Linked DNA regions of Homo sapiens. The protein of the gene in region 1 purifies or fractionates together with the protein of each later gene. This does not show direct contact. Each region holds a gene or a part of one and is shown in the gene's direction. Other genes may lie near its edges.

The links. The genes of interacting proteins can lie anywhere in the genome.
Region 2: the proteins of PRICKLE3 (region 1) and ARMC8 purify together in Homo sapiens (affinity purification with mass spectrometry; 2 studies listed by BioGRID and IntAct, with this or other methods). This does not show direct contact.
Region 3: the proteins of PRICKLE3 (region 1) and PIP4K2A purify together in Homo sapiens (affinity purification with mass spectrometry; 2 studies listed by BioGRID and IntAct, with this or other methods). This does not show direct contact.
Region 4: the proteins of PRICKLE3 (region 1) and FARP2 purify together in Homo sapiens (affinity purification with mass spectrometry; 2 studies listed by BioGRID and IntAct, with this or other methods). This does not show direct contact.

What each region holds. Positions count from the first base shown.
Region 1 is NC_000023.11:49,176,374-49,179,873, reverse strand, and holds part of PRICKLE3 (prickle planar cell polarity protein 3), read left to right. Parts: intron 1-67; coding exon 68-181; intron 182-485; coding exon 486-623; intron 624-1,398; coding exon 1,399-1,602; intron 1,603-1,694; coding exon 1,695-1,881; intron 1,882-2,671; coding exon 2,672-2,971; intron 2,972-3,500. UniProt on the Homo sapiens protein: Involved in the planar cell polarity (PCP) pathway that is essential for the polarization of epithelial cells during morphogenetic processes, including gastrulation and neurulation.
Region 2 is NC_000003.12:138,193,801-138,197,300, forward strand, and holds part of ARMC8 (armadillo repeat-containing protein 8), read left to right. Parts: intron 1-3,500. UniProt on the Homo sapiens protein: Component of the CTLH E3 ubiquitin-protein ligase complex that selectively accepts ubiquitin from UBE2H and mediates ubiquitination and subsequent proteasomal degradation of the transcription factor HBP1.
Region 3 is NC_000010.11:22,704,579-22,708,078, reverse strand, and holds part of PIP4K2A (phosphatidylinositol 5-phosphate 4-kinase type-2 alpha), read left to right. Parts: intron 1-2,653; exon of another isoform or gene 2,654-3,500. UniProt on the Homo sapiens protein: Catalyzes the phosphorylation of phosphatidylinositol 5-phosphate (PtdIns5P) on the fourth hydroxyl of the myo-inositol ring, to form phosphatidylinositol 4,5-bisphosphate (PtdIns(4,5)P2). Has both ATP- and GTP-dependent kinase activities.
Region 4 is NC_000002.12:241,432,785-241,436,284, forward strand, and holds part of FARP2 (FERM, ARHGEF and pleckstrin domain-containing protein 2), read left to right. Parts: intron 1-1,373; coding exon 1,374-1,537; intron 1,538-2,177; coding exon 2,178-2,246; intron 2,247-3,500. UniProt on the Homo sapiens protein: Functions as a guanine nucleotide exchange factor that activates RAC1. May have relatively low activity. Plays a role in the response to class 3 semaphorins and remodeling of the actin cytoskeleton.

The sequences.
Region 1 (3,500 bases):
GCCATCTCACTGCATCCCAACTCACCTCTCATTTCAGTTGTTTTCTCCCACTCCTATGTCCTCCCAGGTATATCAATTTTTCAGCTGCCTCCCAGAGGACAAGGTCCCCTACGTCAACAGTCCTGGGGAGAAATACAGGATCAAGCAGCTGCTGCACCAGCTGCCCCCACACGACAGTGAGGTGAGGAGAGAGAAGACAGGAAGGGCATGCCAGGCACAGCACACAGCCTGGGCCAATGCAGGGCAGGGTCAGAGGAGGAAAGGTGAGCTGATCTGAGGTGAGTGGTCCAGACAGGCAGGGGTCATCAGGGGACATTCCTTGGCAAAACCACAGCTGGGCCTTGGAAGAAGAGGTGGTTACTTCAGGCAGGAGGCACCATCTATAGAAAGACCTAGAAGTAAACTTTCGGGGCATGGATGAAGTCTGGAAGAGGGGCAGGGACAGGCATCAAGGGAGGAGCCTGGGAGATGCCTTCTCCTCCCAGGCACAGTACTGCACAGCACTGGAAGAGGAGGAAAAGAAAGAGCTCCGAGCCTTTAGCCAGCAGCGGAAGCGGGAGAATCTGGGGCGTGGCATCGTGCGCATCTTCCCGGTGACCATCACTGGGGCCATCTGTGAGGAGGTGAGCCGTGGAGGGCCTCAGCGAGTGAGCAGTGCCTCTGCTCCAAGCCCTGGGGAGCAGGACACATCTTCCAAGCACTGGGAAGATGAGGCCTGCCACTTAAGCCCCAGTGAGGTGTCTCTAGGGTCCCCTCTTGTGGGCGGGGTCTGTTCCTCACATCTCACTGTTGGGCAGGGACTGTCTCTAAGGCAACCCCTGGTGGACAGGGACCTGTCCCATCAATCCCACTGTCGTGTGGGGTTTGTCTGTAAGGAGGCCTTAGTGTGTTTTTCTCCCCGTCTGTGCAGTGGACATGGGGCATGGGCTATCTCTTTGGTCCTCCTGTGGTCAGAACTTGTCCTCAAGAGCTGACCCACAGTGGCAGGGCCTGTCTGCAGGGCCCAGTGGTAAGCAGGGCCTGTCCTTAGATCCTACTGTTAGGTGAGATCTATTGCTAAGGTCCCGGTGGGTGGAGACTATCTCTGTGGTTTCCCCCACTAGGCCTGGCCTGTCTGTCTTCCCCACCCCTGATGAGGGAGGCTTGCCTATAAGGCCACCCACCATGGGTAGGGCCTGTCTCTACGGCTTCCCTCATGAGCAGGGTCAGTCTCTAAGGTACCGCCCAACCCCATCCCTGGTATAGGCAGGGCCTGTGTCAAAGTTACCCCATGGGTGGGGCTGATCACAAAGTTTCACTGTGGGAAAGGCCCAAGTGTAACATACTTTGGCTGACCCCATCCATCTGACCATCTTGGTGACAGTGATGGTAACCATCTTGGTGCTTGTCTCATGGCAGTGCGGAAAGCAGATTGGAGGTGGGGACATCGCAGTGTTTGCCAGCCGTGCAGGCCTGGGTGCCTGCTGGCACCCACAGTGCTTCGTGTGTACCACGTGCCAGGAACTGCTGGTTGACCTCATCTACTTCTACCATGTTGGCAAGGTCTACTGCGGGCGTCACCATGCCGAATGCCTGCGTCCACGCTGCCAAGCCTGTGACGAGGTTTGGGCCTCCCTGCCCAGGGGTGGGAGTTGAGGGTGGGCAGGGCCAGGAGCAGGCTCATCTGACAGCCACAGATGGCCTGCGCCCTCCAGATCATCTTCTCCCCTGAGTGCACGGAGGCTGAGGGCCGCCACTGGCACATGGATCACTTCTGCTGCTTTGAGTGTGAAGCTTCACTAGGAGGGCAGCGCTATGTCATGCGTCAGAGCCGCCCCCACTGCTGCGCCTGCTACGAGGCCCGCCACGCGGAGTACTGTGATGGCTGTGGGGAGCACATCGGTGGGTGAATGCTGTGGGACTGGACAGAGGGATGGATGGACAGCTGGGCCACAGTCCTACCCCACCAGGACTCCTCCTGTCCTCCAGGCCCCATCCTCCATTGTGCCCTGTACTTTGTCCAGCCCCAACACTATAGACCTGTACGCTTGGTTGCAAGTCCCACTCCCAATGTCCCCACTATGCCATGCTTTCTAAACCCCACCTAACACAATGCTAGGCCACCACCACATGTCTACACCCACCTCCAGAGGGTGCTCTAATTCCAGCCCCAGGGCTCGCCCTACTCCTAGCCTCTACCACCCCAAGCTGTGCCCCGTTCTCCTCCACTCTCCTGTATCAGCCTAAGTCAGGCCTAGCTTCTAGCTACACCCTATCCTCTGAGAACCACTCCTTTCTCAACAGGGCCACTCCCCACCTGCTAAGCCCTGCCCCCACCAGCCAGGCCTCCTCTTCAGGCCCAGCTTTCCATTCTCCTTCCACTTGGAGCCACCCCCTAATGTCTAAGCCTGGCCCGAATCTTAGAGTCCAATGCCCACCCCGCTCTGGGAGAGAGCACCCTGGGAAAGAAAGGGAGGAGTGAGAGAGAGGTTCACCAGCCAGTCTCCAGGAGAGAACCAAAACCTGTTTCCTGCTTTCTCCAAAAGGGCCCCATTCTGGAGGAGGGAGGAAGGCACCCAGGGGTGCCCTGCCTCGGATTCCCCACCTCTTCTTGAGAAGGGACTCGTTCACGAGGGGTGGGGTTACGCCTGGGGGTTCTGCCTCAGTTTTTCCCCCTCGTCGTTCCCCACAGGCCTGGACCAAGGCCAGATGGCTTACGAGGGCCAGCACTGGCATGCCTCAGACCGCTGCTTCTGCTGTAGTCGCTGTGGGCGGGCCCTGCTGGGCCGCCCATTCCTGCCACGCCGAGGCCTAATCTTCTGCTCTCGAGCCTGCAGCCTTGGGTCCGAGCCCACAGCTCCAGGGCCGAGCCGCCGCAGCTGGAGTGCCGGCCCTGTCACAGCCCCACTTGCAGCCTCCACAGCCTCTTTCTCTGCTGTGAAGGGGGCATCAGAGACCACCACCAAAGGCACCAGCACAGAGTTAGCGCCAGGTGAGCTAACCCTCTAGCCACACCCAGCCACAGCCCAGTCACCCCTATGTCCTTGCCCCTGCCTCAGCCCTGGCCCTTCCTTCTTGACTAGCCCAGGCCCTTCACCTGCTGTATCCCTGGGCCCCGCCCATTTCTCAGCTCATCCTCCTTCCCCACACCAGTCCAGGCCTGGTTTCCATCCCAAACTACACCCGCCTCATGAACCCTGGTTCCACCCTGTCAATACAGGGCTGGTCCCCTACCTCAACTTGTCTCTGCTTGACCCCAAGTTCCTCTTCCTCTTCTCCAGCCGGTCACCCTTCATCCTCTGCAGTCAGGCCCCACCCCTTTTATTGCAAACCAAATCTACTCCAGCCTATGCCACACCTCTTCCATCCGAAGCCACCCCGGGTGCCCTGGCCACGCCCCCCACACCAGTCCCATCTTGCTCCGTGTTCTTCCTTCCAACCCTCTCAACACCCAGAGCCTGCTCCAGGCCTCACACTTCCCAGACTTCCCACCTCCCTGCCATTCTCCGACCCCTGCCCCC
Region 2 (3,500 bases), on another chromosome or scaffold:
TAGACATAACACCAAATGCATTACTTATTAAAAAATTGATAAATTGGACTTTACCAAAATGAAAACTTACGCTCTGTGAAAGACCCTGTTAAAAGGATGGTTGCATTTAATTTTGGTCACTTTGTAATGGTAGAGAGGTAAGGTAACAAATTGTCTTTGAATCACTTTGTAGGCTATTATAAACAGCTGGGCACTTGTTGATTTTTAATTGTCTTCTTTACAGTCCTTTCCCAGTGGCATTACGTCTTTTTTTTTTTTTTGAGACGGCGTCTCGCTCTGTCTCCCAGGCTGGAGTGCAGTGGCGCGACCTCAGCTCACTGCAACCTCCGCCTCCTGGGTTCATGCCATTCTCCTGCCTCAGCCTCCCGAGTAGCTGGGACTACAGGCACCCACTGCCACGCCCGGCTAATTTTTTGTATTTTTTAGTAGAGACAGGGTTTCACTGTGTTAGCCAGTATGGTCTCGATCTCCTGACCTCGTGATCCGCCCGCCGCGGCCTCCCAAAATGCTGGGATTACAGGCGTAAGCCACTGCGCCCAGCTTTTTTTTTTTTTTTTTTGAGACGGAGTCTCTGTCGCCCAGGCTGGAGTGCAGTGGCGCGATCTCGGGTCACTGCAACCTCCGCCTCCCAGGTTCACACCATTCTCCTGCCTCAGCCTCCCGAGTAGCTGGGACTACAGGCACCTGCCACCACACCCAGCTAATTTTTTTGTATTTTTAGTAGAGAAGGGGTTTCACTGTGTTAGCCAGGATGGTCTCGATCTCCTGACCTCGTGATCTGCCCACCTTGGCCTCCCAAAGTGCTGGGATTACAGGCGTGAGCCACCGTGCCCAGCTGTCATTATTTTTTTTTTTTTGAAAAATAGCTGTTAGAACTGTATAGGGTATTCCAAATCTGGATATTCCTTCATTTTGTTCTGTTCTCTACAGTTATAAGCATATTGTTGGCCTTGCCTATAGCTACTTAATGATTTATTCTCTTACATCCATAACTGGCAATAATTAGGAAAAAAAATTGCTGTGAAGTCGAACCCACTATCCTGTAAACATAAATTTGGCCTCCCTAGGTTTTTAGTAATAAATGCAAAATAAAATCTGTACAGCACATTTTAAAGTTTGCCATTAGTTTACAAAGCACTAATAAGTACAGGGTATGTCAGTAGGTGGTCCTAAAATAAATTCATCAGTAAATCGCCAGGTGCAGTGGCTCACACCTGTAATCCTAGCATTTTGGGAGGCTTGGGCAGGTGGATCACCTGAGATCAGGAGTTCGAGATCAGCCTGACCAACATGGTGAAACCCCGTCTCTACTAAAAAATACAAAAAAATTAGCCAGGCATGGTTGCAGGCGCCTGTAGTCCCAGCTACTCGGGAGGCTGAGGCAGGAGAATGGCGTGAACCCGGGAAGTGGAGCTTGCAGTGAGCCGAGATTGCGCCACTGCAGTCCGCAGTCCGGCCTGGGCGACAGAGCGAGACTCCGTCTCAAAAAAAAAAAAAAAAAGAAACTATCTCAAAAAAATAAAAATAAATTCATCAATGAATCAATGTGAACTTTCTAATCTTTAATGGCAGTGTGTGAAAAATGAGAGGTGCTCATTGTATGTTTCTGGACATCTTGCTGTGTATTTAAGGAAAGACTAAGATAGTGCATGTTCAGGAAGTCTTTTAAACTCTGCAAAGAATCAGAAACACATTTATGTAGGGTCTTCAGATTTTACTTTTGAGACCTAGCCTTCTTATCACCTCCTATTTTCGCTAAATTTTAAAATACTTACTGTCAGCAGACAGGAATGTCAGTGATTCTGACTTGTATGTTTTTCAATTCTGATTTGGCATTTGTTTTGCAGTACCATCTGTCCTGTTGGCTTCTGGGTAAAGAGACGGTATTACATGAAAAAAAACAAAGCTCCTATTATCCTCTAGAAATTGGAGAGCAGCTGCCTTCACTGAACAGTAGTGCTATGATCCCTGGGACTGTTGAGATAGAAATTAAAGGTATTGCAAATAAGAGCAGTTTTACAGAAATAGCCCCCTGCCCCACCACTTGTCATTTTGTTGAAAAAAAAAAAAAAAACTGTTTTGACCACATTCCCTAATTTCAGAGGAATGAAGAGTTACATTTTCTAGCATATTCATAATGTAGGTATTAGAGGAAGGAGGAATGATGAAACAGTGTAAGGCTTTATATTAAAAATAAAAAGTTGTGGTCCAATGGGGAGTTTTCAACCTATAAGATCTATTAATATTGGGAGGTCTTTACCACCTGGAAAGTAATTATCGAACACATGCTTCTTTTGCCTTAGGGGTGTTTTTAAGAATTTCTTAGGCTTTCAGAAAGCTAATGGTGATTGATGGGATAAGGGAGACTAAGGAAAAGGAAAGAGTCATGATGATCATTATGATAAAGCATGATTCACAGGATTTATGCCTTTTTGGCCAGGTGGTATCATCTTCTGAGACGGTGAGAATTAGGAGAGGAATTTGTTAGGGGAGTAAGTAGGAAAATGAGTTTCATTTTGGACATGCCAAATTTGTAGTCAGTTGGAAAAAAAGGTTGAGTACCTAAATCTGGGGTCATGATCATTATTTTGGCATCATCAGTGTATTGATCTCTGGTTCTTAGCTGTTTAAGGATGAGAATCTCAATACCTGCTTTCCCAGGAGAACATGCATATGCCTAAATAGTTGCATAATTTCTAGAGATTGCTGGATTCCCTGAAACCCAGAAGTCACTCCAGAATTAACTTCTTCACCTGTCCCAGTGTGAGTCAAGAAAATGTAGCAAAAGCCAGGCACGGTGATTCACGCCTGTAATCCCAGCACTTTGGGAGACTGAGGCAGGTGGATCATCTGAGGTCAGGAGTCTGAGACCAGCCTAACATGGTGAAACCCCGTTTCTACTAAAAATAAAAAAAAATTAGCCAGGTGTGGTGGCGCACACCTGTAATCCCAGCTACTTGGGAGGCTGAGGCAGGAGAATTGCTTGAACCCGGGAGGCAGAGGTTGCAGTGAGCTGAGATCGCACCCTTGCACTCCAGCTTGGGCAACAAGAGTGAAACTCCGTCTCAAAAAAAATTTTTTTTTAAGTCATTTAAAATCATTTTGGAATGGTAAAGATTGTAGCAATAAGGTATTAAAACTCATGTGAGCTATTATGTGTGGGAATTGTTTCTGAAGAGCTACAATTTTTTACCCAGAGTATGCCAGTAATCTCCTAGAAGGTGTACTTTGTTCACAGAAAGGGCATTGTGTAGCAGGCCTGGGATGCAAAGCTAGGTTATCTGGAGATCCAAACAAACTACAAAGTAAGGTGATTGTGGGTCTGGACACAGGCAAAGTGGAATAGACAGATTCGAAGTGGCCTGCGATATTGCCGTGATTGTCACAGGCCACAATGTGGGTGACAGGTCAGGTCTGACAGATCTTGAGTGGTACTGTAATAGGAAAGTGAATGCACCAGCTGCTGCAAATGATGGGCTGAGTCTGAGGCAAGCACCATG
Region 3 (3,500 bases), on another chromosome or scaffold:
TCACTTCTGTCACTCCTAACCAGATTTGTTTCCCTCTTTCCTAGACTGATATTAAACCCCCCTAGCTTATTTCCCTGTGTCTGCCTTTATCCTCATTTCTTTTCTTTTTTGTACTAGGAACTCCTATGGCAGTCCAGTGAAGGCCATAGACTCCTCAGAATGAGGCTTTTAAAGGAATAAATGAAAATACAGAGGATATGTCCTAGCAAGTTCAAGGATCCTTTTAATTCTATCCATGGACCACTTGGGAGTTCATGGAACCCCATCAAGAACCCTTGCAAGAATAAGATGGGGATAGTGTGGGGTGAGAAAGTGGGGAGAGCACGCAGCAGCCAGGAAGAATTCTTGGGGGGGAACACGCATAGGCTGAATTGATTACCCGCCTGGGTCACAGTGCCTAGTACTTGGGATTCACAACGGTACCGTTAACCACTGAGCTGTGCTGCCTGGGCCAAGCTCAGGAATCATTCATTTCTTTGAGTTCTTTTATTTTCTTAGTCTTAAGAGCTGTTCTTCTTGGATGGACAGAGTATTAGCTGTTAACATGGGAGAAAACTACTTGAAAACCAGTTTTTCCCTTCATAGAAAGAAAATCATTGTTAATGTTCAGAGCATGTAGGGAGAGAACCAGTACATAATTTATTTAAGAAAAATGTTGTAGGGAGTTTTAAAACAGTAACTTACCTAAAGCTAAGCCTCACAATTCTAAATCTTTATAGTTTTTCAGCTACCTGGGCACAGTGATTAAGAGCTCTGGAGTCCTTGTTCGGTTGGCTATGTGACCTTGAACAAGTTATTTTGCCTCTCAGTTCCTTGATTATAAAAGGAGGTAATAATGGTACCTACTTTGGAAGTTTGTTATATGGATTAAATCAATTCATACTTGTAAGATGCCTAAATAGTTGCTGGCACATGGTAAGTTCTTAATGTGCTAGCTGTCATTATTACTATCCTTTAAAATAGAGACAGGGTCTTGCTGTATTGGCCAGGCTGGTCTCAAACTTCTGACCTCAAGCAATCCTCTCACCTCAGCCTCCCAAAGTGCTGGAAATAGAGCCTTGAGCCACCATGCCTATCCTATTTTTTTTTTTAATATCTTAAATGCTAAGAGGTAGCAAATTATCAGATTGTATGCTAAATCAATGGTTACTTTATCCTGTTTTGTAGTAGAACATCATCGTTGTTCTTGGCATCCTTGTGTATTTTTGAGTTATGAATTATCATTTTAGAATTACCCTTGTGCCCTTGCTTTGCTTTCTGTATCTATTTTGTTATGTTCTTTCTTGTATTTTTCACACTTCCACTAGCGATTAGGTTCTTTGAAGTGTCAGAAATCTAATTCACATCCATTAGTTGCAAGTTATGTCAGCTATTGACTTGATATTTCACCTTGTCTTTAAATATGGAGACACTGCAAGATGCTTCAGATGCAAAATGAATATATTGTGGACCTTGCTCTCAAATTGTGCATAACTACAGGGGACACAGACGTAAAATAAATATATGTGTAAATAACTACAGTGTCCAGAATGCTAGGGGTGGAAGGTATTAAATAGACCGTGCAGAACATTGAGCAAAGGCATGACGTCGGTGAAGGGCTTAGACATGAGGCAGTTTGGGAGAAGAGCATTTCAGGCGGAGGGGTCAGCTGGTGCAAAGGCCGTGAGGCTGGTGTTTGCTTGGCTTGTTATGGCAACTGCAGGAAAGCTGGCATGGCTGGAGCACAGCAAGAGGGGGATATAGTGGTAGGAGATCTGCCAAGGTGCTAACCAGGACTGGATCATGATTACTTCTGCCTGGGGGACTTGGAGAATCCTTGAGAGGAGGTAACAATGAGGAGGACCTTGAGGATTAGATAGAATCTCCCAGCTGCAGAAGATGGGTGATATGGTTTGGCTGTGTCCCCACTCAAATCTAATCTTGAATTGTACCCATAATCCCCAGGTGTTGTGGGTGGATCAGCTGGAGATAATTGAATCATGGGGGCAGTTTTCCCCATCGTATTCTCGTGATAGTTAGTTCTCACGAGACCTAATGATTTTAAATAAGGAGCTTCTCCTTTTGCTGGGTGTTCATTCTTCTGCTTGCTGCTGCCATGTGAAGAAGGATGTGTTTGCTTCCCCTTCTGCCATGATCGTAAGTTTCTTGAGGTCTCCCCAGCCCTGCAGAACTGAGTCAGTTAAACCTCTTTCCTTTATAAATTACCCAGTCTTGGGTATTTCTTCACAGCAGCGTGAGAACAGACTAATACAATGGGGAAAGGCATATGCAGCTGAGGGTCCGACAGCGGGCAAAACCAAGCAGAGCGGAGAATGTGAGTAGTTGGCTTTGGGTGTGGCCACAGTGGCAGAACCCAGTAACATGTTAGAAATGCAGAGCTTGGGCCTCTGCAGACCTGCTGGAGCAGAATGTACATTTTAACAAGACATGTTGATCGTCAGCATATTTAAGTCTGAGAAACACCCATCAGGGTAAATCTTTGGTTTCAAGCCCTGAGATTCCTTAGATGTGCCTCAGGGGCTGGTGGGAGGGGGCCAAGCTGGTGGGGGAATTTAGGCCTACCTCAGTTTCCTCCAGAACAGCCTTGTTTTTGTCCTCATTGTCATCTCTCTGTCCTTTTTTTTTTTTTTTTTTTTTTTTTTTTTTTTTTTTAACTGGGGTACTGAATATAATACGTAAAGGGGGTAAAAAAGATCCTGCAGCCAAGAAAATTGAAAACCACAGAGGAACATAAAGGGAGTGTCAGGAGATGGTTGAAAGAGTAGTTTGAGGCCACCTTTGAAGGGCCAAGTGGTTGATGTTTGCCAGAGAAAAGCCAGCAGTTCTGACCAGGGTTACTTTAAAATTTGCCACAAATCTCAAATGACACTCGACCCGGAAGTGTTACTGCCTCCTTTAATATGTTCTCCACTCTCTGAAGTCATTTCTTCCTTTTCACTTCTCCTTGAACTTCACCTAGTGTCCTGTCCCCCACTTCCCCCACCCCGTCCTTCCCTCAGCATATAACCTCATTTAGAAAGCATTGAACAAATAGAAGCCGTCAGCTTCCACTCTTCCCACCATCCCATCTAAATTTTGGACAGCTGGGTCCGTCAGTCTACAGACATGCTGGAGGGGCTGCCCTGCCTGGTTTTGTAGCTGCTAGCTATATATGGCAATTTAAATTTCAGCTAATAAAACTTAAAATTCAGTTTCTCATATCAAGTGCTCACTAGCCACATGTGGTTAGTGGTTACTGGATTGAACAGTGCAGATATAGACGATTCCCACCATTGCAGTGTCTTCCACTGACATGGCTCACCATTCCGGGGCCGCCCATCTTGAAAGCAAAATAAACTACAGTAACAGCAGAAGCTCTCCTTCACCCTTAGTCTCTCATTTTAGTGTCTTCTCGTGTTTTCTGTTCCTTTTTTTTTTTTTTTTTTTTCAGATGAGGTCTTGCTTTTTGGCCTGGGCTGGAGTGCATGGTGCAATCATGGCTCACTGCTGCCTCAAACTCC
Region 4 (3,500 bases), on another chromosome or scaffold:
GAGTTAGAAAATAAAAAGTAGATTTGCCAAGCTACCATGGGGTTTGAAGCTTAAGAGATGGCCATGCCTGTGTCAGCCCAGACACATTTTGGGTTATGGGAGATTTAGAGCCTTTGGGCCAGTCAGAAGAAAAGCTTTGCCTACGCCTTTAAAAGGCACTTGAGTAGTAGGGCTTTTGGTACACACTGGGTTCACGTGCTTTGTGTAAGTGTGTTTGCTTTTGGTAGAAGGCTTGAAAGTGGCTTTAATTGTTGTACAAATATCTGTCCTGTGGATGAAGGGGAAGTAGAAGGAATGCCAAACACACATACGAAACACAAGTAAAAGCTGTTTTACTCTGTAAGTAAAAAAAAAAAAAGTTTCCTGCAGTTATTCGAGATGATAGGGAAAGTTCACCAAAGCAGCTATTAACTTGAATAGGGCGATAAGTCAAAGCCCAGAACTGTTTGCATCTGCACTTAGCAAAGTTACATTTTACTTACCTAAGCACGTTTTAAAGACTAAATGTTAGATTCAAAGTATTACAGTCTTTGTGGAAGGTAATTGGGTAACATACATCAGCAGGTTCAAAAATGTGCAGTCTTTGAGCTCAGATTTCCATTTCTAGGAATTTATCCTAAGGAATAACTGAGAGTGAATGCAGTTCCTTCAGGGCAATATTTGTAGGCCTGAAAACTGCATGTCCTGGACATCTAAAATATCCTAGATTTTAAAAATATATACCATGTAGAAACAATTCAGTAATAACATGTAAATATGTCAGTTGGCATGAAAAATGCCAAGGCTAGGTAGAAAAAGTGTTTACAAAGATAGAATTCAGAATGTTGATAGTTGTGTGATTGTGGGTGACTTCATTTTTCTGCTAGTTCTACTATGAATATATATACTGTCTATCTTTTCTTAATTAAGCAGATGGAACCAGAAGACTTTGTATACAACTTTTAGAAAAACCCTTCCTGGGCTGGGTGCAGTGGTGCACACCTGTAATCCCAGTACCTTGGGAGGCTGAGATGGGCAGATCACTTGGGCTCAGGAGTTCAAGACCAGCCTGGCCAACATGGCAAAACCCTTTTTCTACAAAAAATACAAAAATCAGCTGGGCTTGGTGTTGTGAGCCTGTAGTCCCTACTGAGCAGTAGGAGGGGAGCGGCTGAGGTGGGAGGATTGTTTGAGCCTGGGAGGTTGAAGTTGCAGTGAGCCAAGATCACGCCATTGCACTCCAGCCTGGGCACAGAGCAAGATCCTGTCTCAAAAAAAAACCTTACTGATTTTTAATTTTGGAATTCCCTATCGTGTGATCTGCTTCCTAAATGTACTTTCTCTTGTCCAATACTTCATTCTTGAATTAATTAACCTTTGTGTTTTGTTTCTAGGGACCTTACCAGGACACATTAGAATTTTTGTTGGGTAGTAGAGATGAATGTAAGAACTTCTGGAAGATTTGTGTGGAGTATCACACCTTTTTTAGACTTTTGGACCAACCTAAGCCAAAAGCAAAAGCCGTCTTCTTCAGCCGGGGCTCCTCCTTCAGATACAGGTAGGGGCCATGCCGTGGCTTGCATGGGCCCCTCACTGGTTTGTAAAGCTGAGAAAATAGGTAATTCCTAGTCAAGAAAGAAGTGTTATAAAATATTTCAGAGAATTACACACAAAGTGGAGGTATTGTGAAAGAATAACTAGAGGAAGCATATGAAATAAAATAACGGAAAAAATACGCTTAATAAAAACTTTGCTTACAAATTCAGTTACGCTTACTACAAAGTATAACTTTAAAATATGTATGTGGGCCGAGCCCGGTGGCTCACACCTGTAATCCCAGCACTTTGGAAGGCCAAGGCGGGTGGATCATTTGAGGTCAGGAATTCGATATCAGCCTGGCCAACATGGTGAAACCCCATCTCTACTAAAAATACAAAAATTAGCTGGGCGTGTTAGCGGGCACCTGTAATCCCAGCTACTCGGGAGGCTGAGGCATGAGAATCGCTTAAACCCATGAGGCAGAGATCACGCCACTGCACTCCACCCTGGGCAATAGAGCGAGACTCAGTCTCAAAAAATAAAATATATGTGTGTATATTTATGAGAGAGGATGGGTAAATCTTTTCTTTTGTCTTTTACTCTGAAAAATTAATGCTGACTTACTGTTCTTTATTAAAAATCTGAATCTTTATTCACAGTGGAAGAACTCAGAAACAACTAGTAGATTATTTCAAAGACAGTGGAATGAAGAGAATTCCATATGAAAGGTAAGCTCTGGCCTTTATGATGTAAAGTGTGTGCTTTTAAAATTAAAATTTAAATATATATATGGAGAGAGAGCGAAAAGAGAGACTGAGTCTTGCTCCGTCACCTAAGCTGGAATACAGTGGCATGATCACGGCTCACTGCAGCTTCAGACTCCTGGGCTCAAGCAATCCTCCCACCTCAGCCTCCCGAGTAGCTGGGAATATAGGCGCACACCACTATCCCCTGGCTAGTTTTTTTTGTTTTTTTTTTTTTTCTGTAGAGACAAGGTCTTGCTATGTTGCCCAGGCTGGTCTCAAACATGTGGGCTCAAGTAATCCTCCAACCTCAGCCTCCCAAAGTGCTGCGATTATAGGTGTGAGCCACCATGCCCAGCCTATTTTAAATATTAATCTTTACTTGACTGAAAGTCACTTCAAATACATGAATGTGTATTTTTACAGGAGTTCAGTTTCAATGTTTTAAAGAAAGTGGATTTGTAATTTTTTTTTTTTTTTTTTTGAGACGGAGTCTCGCTCTGTCGCCCAAGCTGGAGTGCAGTGGTGCGATCTCGGCTCACTGCAAGCTCCGCCTCCCGGGTTCACACCATTCTTCTGCCTCAGCCTCCCGAGTAGCTGGGACTGCAGGCGCCTGCCACCACGCCTGGCAAATCTTTTGTATTTTTAGTAGAGATGGGGTTTCACTGTGTTAGCCAGGGTGGTCTCGACCTCCTGACCTCATGATCCACCCGCCTCGGCCTCCCAAAGTGCTGGGATTACAGGTGTGAGCCACTGCCCCCGGCCTGTAATATTTTTATATAGACATTGTATACACATAGAGATATTTTTAGTTTCTCTTCTGTATAGCTTAGCTTATATATATTTTTACATAGTATAGTAAATTTTTTTTTTTTTTTTTTTTTTGAGATGGAGTCTTGCTCTGTCGTCCAGGCTGGAGTGCAGTAGTGTGATCTCGGCTCACTGCAAGCTCCACCTCCTGGGTTCACGCCATTCTCTTGCCTCAGCCTCCCAAGTAGCTGGGACTACAGGCACCCACCACCACACCCAGCTAATTTTTTGTATTTTTAATAGAGACGGGGTTTCATAATGTTAGCCAGGATGGTCTTGATCTGACCTCGTGATCCACCCGCCTCGGCCTCCCAAAGTGCTGGGATTACAGGTGTGAGCCACTGCGCCCGGCCTATAGTAAACATTTAATCTGAAAATTCTTGTTGTTTCTCCGCACGTGGAATTTTTTCCTTTAGTGTGGGTGTGTAA